Linked DNA regions of Homo sapiens: region 2 is linked to region 1. Evidence: fine-mapped expression QTL. A gene starts in region 1. The other region holds a variant in brackets. All regions are shown on one strand. Distances are from middle to middle.

What was found. PIP is the estimated chance that this variant, and not a neighbour inherited with it, causes the effect. A credible set is the group of variants that fine-mapping cannot tell apart.
Region 2: its variant is the best candidate, but not a certain one, in a credible set for the expression of TTLL5 in testis (GTEx, PIP 0.68).

What each region holds. Positions count from the first base shown.
Region 1 is chr14:75,659,082-75,663,478 of GRCh38, forward strand. It overlaps TTLL5 (tubulin tyrosine ligase like 5), which reads left to right and starts at 2,165. Exons shown (of 32, transcript NM_015072.5): 1 at 2,165-2,306; 2 at 3,974-4,142. The coding sequence starts at 4,069. ERG28 (ergosterol biosynthesis 28 homolog) reads right to left here and starts at 1,795. Exons shown (of 5, transcript NM_007176.4): 1 at 1,694-1,795. RefSeq lists a silencer at 1,857-1,906 and an enhancer at 2,017-2,236.
Region 2 is chr14:75,720,176-75,724,572 of GRCh38, forward strand. It overlaps TTLL5 (tubulin tyrosine ligase like 5), which reads left to right. Exons shown (of 32, transcript NM_015072.5): 12 at 421-528. Among named protein-coding and RNA genes, the nearest start is that of TTLL5, 61 kb to the left of the region's middle. The variant T/C (reference allele first, on the strand shown) is at 1,739.

The DNA of each region.
Region 1 (4,397 bases):
CAATGAGGTAAGCAGGCACTATTAATATTTCCATCTTACAGATGAGGGTTGGAACAGAGAGGTTAAACAAGTTTCTTAAGGTCACACAGCAAAGTTGGCAGAGCTGAGATAAGAATCATGGTCTGCTGGACTGCTGCAGTGCTACCTCATTGTTTGAGACTATTTTAATGAAGTTCCCATTTTTTGAGAAAGAAAAGCATACCATATCCACTTTTGTCTTCAAGTTGTATGGAAAATACAATTAGATTACATACTTTTTGTTTTTTAATTTATTATTTATTTATTTATTTTTTTGAGACAGGGTCTTGCTCTGTCACACAGGCTGGAATGCAGTGGCATAGTCATGGCTCATTGCAGCCTTGAAATCAAAGGCTTAAGTGATCCTCCTACCTCAACCTCTCCACTTGGGCTCAACTGATCCACTCACCTTGGCCTCGCCTCCCAAATGCTGGGATTACAGGTGTGAGCTACAGCACCCAGCCTTTTTTTTTTTTTTTTTAAGGCTTAGTTCAACTCTTGTTGAGTAGTAATTTCAGTTAGTCTGATTTAAATAAAACCAAAATAGATAAATAATCTAATAATGGAATGACTTTTTCCCATCCTCATTATTATTTTCTTGGTCCACGGTTTATCTGTTGTCAGGTTAACCTCTTGGGCCTGAAGTGGTAATAAACTAACAGGCTTTCTTTGTCACTTTGGCAATACAAGTTTCGGTATTGTTCTCTGCTACCCAGTGGGACAGATATTAAAGTCAGCAATGGCCCAAGACAGTGTGAAACACCGCCGCCCCCCCCCGCCAACTCCCCGCCCCAAACAAGCAATAAAGAGATCTAGAGAAGGAAGGGTGAATTGATGAGCCCTTCAGGGAGAGCTGGATCACAAAGGTGGTCTCTGTCGAAGATCAGAGAGACTGAGGGTCTACTGGACATCACAGGCCATTATCATTTGGGCCAAGATCCACCCATCCTCTTTATTTTCTCACTCTCTCTCAAGAGGAGACTCCTCCGGGGTTTAGAAAAGCTGCATGGATGCACCTCTCCACTTTTCTGCACAAGTATGCCTTCCATTTCACAGAAGTGTTATCTGTTAGAAATCCCAACAGATAGCTGATGAGGACAGAGCCTGAGCACTTCTGAATTGCTCTGCCAATTTCTCAACCTAATTTCCCTAAAGCTTAAGGGCCTCTTAGAGTGTATACAACATCTATTTCCAAATTTTGTCCTGGCCCTGGCCCAGCCCAGCCAAGCCCAGCCCAGCATAGGTGTGCTGTTAAAACTTAATCAGGAGAAAGGGATTCTTATCCTGGCCCTACCACTTAGTAGCTGTGTGACCCTGGGTAAGTCATTTACACTTTTCAGTCTCGGTTTCCTCATCTGCAAAATGGAGATAGAAATATCAACCCGAAGGGCTATTGTAAGAATTATATGACAAAAAGTGAAGGCTCTTTGTACAGTGCTAGGCTCATAGTGGCTGCTCATTCGCTCATCCATTCCTTCGTTCCTTGAATTCACCAAGCCTTCTCCATCTTCCTAGCTCCCCCTTGTCATCGCCTCTCGAAACCTTTTCCCCCCAAAAGGTTGCCTTCCAGTTATCTTCCTTCCATCCCACCTCCATTTTTCCAGACTCTCCGGATCCTCTCAATCAGAAGCAACACAGACACCTACATCCCTCTTCTCCCCCATATTCTCCTTACCTGGCGACCGGGCCCCCAGCACAGCAGTGGCAGCAGCAGCCGCTGCCGCAAACAAGCTCCCCCAGGACAGCTCCAGCCCGGAGTCCACCTGAGCCATTTGTCCCCGCCCCCTCCCTCAGCCCTGCTCCAGGATTGGGCCGTTTCCGTCAGTACTCTCTCTGATTGGCTGTCCCGGTTTCGCCCGAGCAGGAGATGGGGAGTGAACCCCTTTACTGCCAATCAGCGGTTGCCGCTGCCTAAGCCTCTCCCCAGGTACGCCGCTCACGCCGTAAGCCCTCCTGTTGGACCTAGCGGAACTCCGGGTTTGGAGTCAACCTCTTAGGGGCGGAGAAAAAAACAGCGGAAAAAAAAAAAAAAAAGAAGACTCCCTTCAGCTGAGGGCAGGGCTCTGCGCCCGCGCTGCGCGGCGGTGACGACATTCGCCCGCGTCCGCAGCTGAGCGTTATGAGCGCCTGCGCAGTGGCTCCGAGCGGGCGGTTGCTTGTTGGTTGTTGTAGTAACCGGGGAAGCAGCCGTCGGCGGCTGCCCTGAGCCTTCCTGGGGAAGGAGGAGGGAGGTAGGCGCAGAGCGCGGTCCACGCCTGCTCGCCCCGAACCATGGGAAGATGAGACAGGTAAACGCCTGCGCCCGCGCGCTTCCCTACCCTAGGGAGGAGCATTCCCGGGTCCGGGCTGGCGCCTGCAGCAGGACTTCCCGCTCAGAGCCCGGGAGTAGCTGTTGGCTTCCGGGCGCGCCGCGTTGAATCGCGGCTGCGGGGTCGTCCCGTCCTTCCCGGGGGGAGCATCTGCGGACCTACGTGGGATTGGGGTGAGCTGGGGGTGGGGCTGAGAAGCAGATTCCTTTCGGGAGAGGAGTCTCCTTAGGTGAGTATCTCTACTCTTCTTCCGATAGACCTGTTTCTCCCCGCTCTGCAGGCAGCCTAGGAGAGGTTGGCATCCCTTCCCGTTTGGAGGTTTTGTTTGTTTAAACTTAAAGGGCTTCCCAGCATTTTGGGAAAGATCAAGAAATCCCGTTGAGAATCCCCTGAAGAAAGCCATTGAAGTTGTTAGACATTGCCTATTGCGCCGAAGATCTTTGATCATTATCGGGGTCTGTTTTTTTTTTGTCTTATTTACAGTCTCATCGTATTTATGAATGCATGGAAAAGTTAAGAAGGATTGACAGCAAGTAATTATCGCTGAGTAATTTGGGATTATGGTCATTTAAACATGTTTCTTTTATTTGTAGTTCCTATTTCTTCTTCTGACACACACAACGAACATGTACTTTTTTACTTTAGAAAAAATATTTTAAGTTAGAAATGCAGTGTTGGAAATTTCCTAATTTCATCGTCTATTTGAGAGTCGTACCAAACTTTGTGATTTTTAGGAAGAATAATTTTTAAGAGTGGAAGGGCATTCCTCCCCTCCCCCACCTATTTATATGGACCTTTGATTCAAGAGAATATATTCATCTTTCGGTTCATTGTTGAATTTATTTTACTGGAAACATGATGGCATCTTGTCAGCGTGCTTGTCATAGAGTCTAAATAAATGTTGGCAGGGGTTTTTTGTTGTTTTTTTTTTTTTGAGACGGAGTTCACTCTTGTTGCCCAGGCTGGAGTGCAATGGCGCGATCTTGGCTCACCGCAACCTCCGCCTCCCGGGTTCAAGCGATTCTCCTCCCTCAGCCTCCCGAGTAGCTGGGATTACAGGCATGAGCCAGCACACCCGGCTAATTTTTTGTATTTTTTTTTTTTTTTTTTAGTAAAGACGGGGTTTCTCCATGTTAGTCAGGCTGGTCTCGAACTCCCGACCTCAGGTGATCCGCCCGCCTTGGCCTCCCAAAGTACTGGGATTACAGGCGTGAGCCACCCTGCCCGGCCTGCAAGGGTCTTAAACCTTGAGTTTTTATTTATTTATTTTTAACCCAGGCCAGGTTTGTCTAGCAAGGAATATATGTTTTAGGGAATCAGTCACCTGCCTCAAACTGAGTGAAAGTGAGGAGTCTATCCTTTTGGTGCATATTCGATTTAGTAAATAATGAGAAACTCAAACTTAGTAACAGCTCTTCAAATATATAGAGCACAGACTGTATGTTTGAAAAAAATCTTGATTTTTGTGGCATATTGAGGCACATATTGAGGCACATTCCATATGTTATGGAAAGTAAACTTCTAGAGGTTGAGCACTGTTTAGGAATATAGTCATTTTCATTACTTAGATTATCAGCAATAACCAATAAATAGACAACTGCATTGTGTTTCAGGTCAATTGATCCAATCAAGTTGATTTCTTGCAGGAATCTGTGCCATCCAAATTGCTTGATCCAGTGAATCTGCTAGGAAAGGTCTCTGAGGCCCCCGTCTGCTGACTGCATGACAAACCCTAAAGGAAATGCCAATCGTGATGGCCCGGGACCTGGAGGAAACAGCATCATCCTCAGAGGATGAGGAGGTCATAAGTCAAGAGTAAGTAATAGCAAGCCTGCTTTCAACCTGTGCTTTGTACTCTTTCACTTATATACTCTTATATACTGTTTTACTATATACTCTTCTCTTTTACTTATGTACTCTTTTATCTAGTGTCATTCCTTGGGGATTATCTAACTCTGGTTTTAGCTTCTATCCATAATGTCATTTAAGGTCTTGTTACTCAGTCCCTATCAGCTATGAGAAATGAGATAAGGCTCTCTTTCTGGGCCCATAAGTGAACATCAGCTCTAG
Region 2 (4,397 bases), 61 kb after region 1:
TCATTCATGTTGCTGAGTTGGAGAATGGGCACTGTTTGAGCACAGGGCTTCAAATCAAAATGGACACAATTGCTGAGCCTTGAGCAGAACGGGAAACTGTGTGCCAAAAAAGACTTTTCATTTCACAAGGGAAAGGGTCATAGGGGAAGTGTGAGAAGGGAAGTGAGGCTCCTATTCCATTATGTGTCTGTCTTTTGTCATAAGAGGCCACCTGAGGGTATCCCTTGGCACCTACATTCTTGACTGTATTGATCTGTTCACAGATATGCCTGCCTCTATAGCACCCATTCAGAAGTCTGCCATATAGAGGCTTTTTTGAATGAGCACACATGCTTTTATAGTTATATTGTTATCTGGAATCCAGTTCATAATCCATGTATTTTGATATTGAGTCTGAAATTTAAAAATTTTTGTTTGCAGCATTGATGGCCCATGTAGAAGACCTGATCATTAAGACTATAATCTCTGCTGAACTAGCTATTGCTACTGCCTGTAAAACCTTTGTTCCTCATCGCAGCAGTTGTTTTGGTAAGGAGACTCAAGAAGCTTAACATGTTTTGTGAAGAGGATCTTGGGAAGTTGGACGGGATTTTAGGGTAGAGAGGCTTAGTGATTCTATAGCAGTAAGAGGTATGTGATGGACTCTTCTTTCTAAGCTCATGTAGCATATGAAGAGCCTACTAAGAGGCCAATAGTGAGCTTGGTCAGAAGTCCCCTGAGGAGTAACTAGCTTTCTGTGTGGGAAGCAGGGATTGGAACGAACGTGTTGGTCTTTCTGTCAGAGTGCAGTCAGAAAAAGTCTGCAACGGACTGTACAGGAATCCAGCTCTAACAAATATATTCCAGAGCTCCTTGGCAGCCAGGCTGGGAACAGTTCCAAGAAGCTCTGGCTGGTACCAGTATGTGCTTTCTCCCATTTTCCGATGACTCCTCCTTTTTGTTTGAGTCTTCTTTCTAGTGTGTTCCTCCCCCTCCTCTCTTTCTCCCATTCCTCTTCCACTTTCTTTTCTCTTTCTCTTTCTCTTCCTCTTCTCCTCCCCTTCCACTCCACCCCCAACTCCTTGACTGCACAGAGAAGGAATAAGCAGTTCACAACTACAGAATCAGGAAATGTTACCTACTGACCCCCTAGCTATAATGGTAGCACTGAGGGTGCCTATGGACATTGCTTCCTATGTGGAAATGAATGGGTTTGTGATTGCCCATGTGAATGTGTTTAAAGTCACATAGGCTTTTGGCAGTGTTAGGCTTTGTTAGTAAAATACACTAGGGTCTTTGATGGGGAGGATGATTAAAGTGTGGTGTGGAGTAATACAGGTAGTAAGGATATGAGAGTCGTGCTTTGGTTAGAAGGCAGAGTAACAGGGAAATAAAGAATATGGGTTTTAGAGCCTAACAGCCTTAGTTTGTAACCATGTATATCCATATCTAGTTTTGTGATTTTCAGCAAGTTACTCTAATCCTGTTTCCTCAACTATAAAATGGCAGTAATGGTGGTGTCTACCTCCTGAGAATACCATGAAGATCAAATGAGATGATGCACGCAAAGCACTTGACACAATGTCTGGCCCTTACGTTGTACTCAATAAAAATTATTTGTTATTTTTGTAATTAGACATCATAATTCCTGATCTCTTTAACAGATTATCGTTAACAGGCTATATTTGAGGGTCAGTAAACAAAGGGAATTGTTGAGATTGAATAGAAGATGGTAGATAAATCAGGACCTAAAATTATA[T/C]GGGAAAAGAAGAGGTTGTAATATATTTTTTAAAATACATATCTGATCATGTCTTCTGAAATCCTTAAATGGTTCCTTAGGCTTAAATTGTATAATAGAAACTTGATATGACCTGAAAGGCTTCTAAGGTAACTCAGGTAACTCTTCTAGAATTCCATTTCCCCTCATATACCTTATAATCCAGCTGTACTATAGTATACTTCTAAGCACTCTGTGCTTTTGTGCCACTGTATGAGTTCTGCTGTTTGGCCTAAAAACTCTCCTTCTGTCTCTGCCTTGCATGCTCCCATTTCTTTTCTAAGATTTAGTTCTCCACATTGCCTCCTCCCTCATGCTGTTCTTTTTTTTTTGAGACAAGGTCTTGCTCTGTTGCCCAGGGTGGAGTACAGTGGCATGATCACCGTTCACTGCAGCCTCCACCTCCTGGGCCCAAGTGATCCTCCCACCTTAGCCTCTCGAGTAGTTGGGACTATAGGCATGTGTCATCATGCCTGGCTAATTGTTTAAAAAACTTTTTGTAGAAATGTGACCTCACTATGCATTATGCTTTTCTGTGCTTGTTTGATCATTCTCTTTTCCTATCACATCATGATGTTTTGTTTATACATACACTCAGCCGTGTCTGAGTTTATTTTCTTGAATTCATAACAGCCAGTGTGTCCTTTCTTCCCATTTCACCCTATTTCTGCCAAACCAGAGCTTTCAACATTTCTCTTGTCCCCTTTTTAAATTTTTTTTTTTAGTTTTGTATTAGAGACAGGGTCTCACTGTTGTCTAGGCTAGAGTGCAATGGCGCAATCGTATTTAGCTCACTGCAGCCTTGAACTCATGGTACCAAGTGATCCTCCTGCCTTGGCTTCCCCAAATACTGGGCTTACAGGCATGAGCTACCATGTAAGCCCTCGCTTGCTACCTCTGCACCTGTTTTACCGTGTGTCTGAAATACCTTTCTTGTGTTACTTTACCTAATAAATTACAGACATTTTTCAAGACAAAGTCAAGTGTCACTTCTTTGGTGATGTTTTTTTCTAATGCTCCCAGAGTTAGCCTGCTCTGCCCTTATACCCCCAGCACTCTGTTTGTAACTCTACAATAGTATCTGTATGTTGTCTGGTAGTCATGTGTATATTTGTCTCCTGTAGCCGACTGGAAACTCCTTGAGGACAGTAAGAATATCTCCGTCAGTTTTGCCCCCACCATGCATGGCAGCACTTTTTTTTAAATTGAGACAGTATCTCACTACGTTACCCAGTCTGGCCTTGAACTCCTGGGCCCAAAGGATCCACCTGCCTCAGCCTCCCGAGTAGCTAGGACTATAGGTGTGTGCCACCATACCCAGTTGCATGTCAGCGTCTTTTGCTCTTAGAGAATGTTCAGGAAATGTTTCTTGAATGAATGATTGGCACTTGCTTTAATTGCTTTTTGGTGGCCTGACAGTAGACTTCCCAATGGATCTGGTTTGGTAATGGCCTAGAACTCTTAGAATTATTGCAGACTGTTTGAAGATGGGGATGAGGGGTTGGGACTAGGAGCGTAACTCCAACTTCCAAAACCTCATTAGATTTAAATAATAAATAAAGGTTTATTTTTCTACATCTACTTGGCTCTTATATGAGGGTAAATTTCTGATATCCCTTGCTGTAAAAATCTTTGTTCTAAATAATTATAAAACCTTTTCTGAATGTTTCCTTTTGTTTGTTTGTTTGTTTGTTTTATAACTTGATTGCCTTTTGGAAGCTTGGGAGCTTCATTATTGAACTTATTGGCAATAGAATGTTCCGACGTGGAAGAAGCTGTGACTTTCTCTGACTCAGTGAAATACCCCTTAAGTCCATTTCATCAGCCATGGGTCTCCTTTCTTCCTCCCTACTTGTGTTCAGTTTTAATAAACTGAGTGCATCTGGAGTTTTTTAAGTTGTTGACTATCTTCTTGGCTTTTGTGGTTCTAATTCCACTTCCTGTCAGCCCTGGGATTTTGTGTGCTTCATTAACCTCATCCCATCAGATATGATTTTGTATACGTGTGTATATTTGTATGAGTCTCTGCCTCCCACTGACTCCTAACTTCCCCTGGGGTTTAAGTCACAAGGAATAAGCTAGTTGTTTTTTTTTTTTTCCATTTATTTTAGAGTAAACAGGAATTGAAAGCTTCCCAGAAGATTTTGGCTCAAACAGAGCATTGGTGCTTTTAGGGGAAACCAACAGACCAGACATGGGGTTCGCTATATTCTTTTGGTGGTTGTTCCTGTCCTTCCATCTTATGGATCTCTGCCAGGGGCATTCCCTTACTATCTCAGTGTTTGTATCCTATGATTTCTTTCCCATCCTACCACCTGTAATGTTCAACTATGTTTCCAGGTATCTTCAATATCCCATCCTATTTATTTATACATTTAATTTTTCTTCAGTTCCTGCTGTGGGCAAGTCATAGGTTAGCCTTTCGGCAGTGTATTACCATCAAGTTTGTTCCTCTCAAACCAAATTTTATGTAGGATGAGATACAGATATAGATATATATATACCTCCATTGCACTATTAGTGTTTAAATGTAGACTTGAGAACCTATACAAACTACCCGAAACTTTGTCATTTAATGCTTTTTCCTAGATTTGCACATCTGGCAAGGACCTTAGAGAATAATTAGTTCAGATATAGAAAT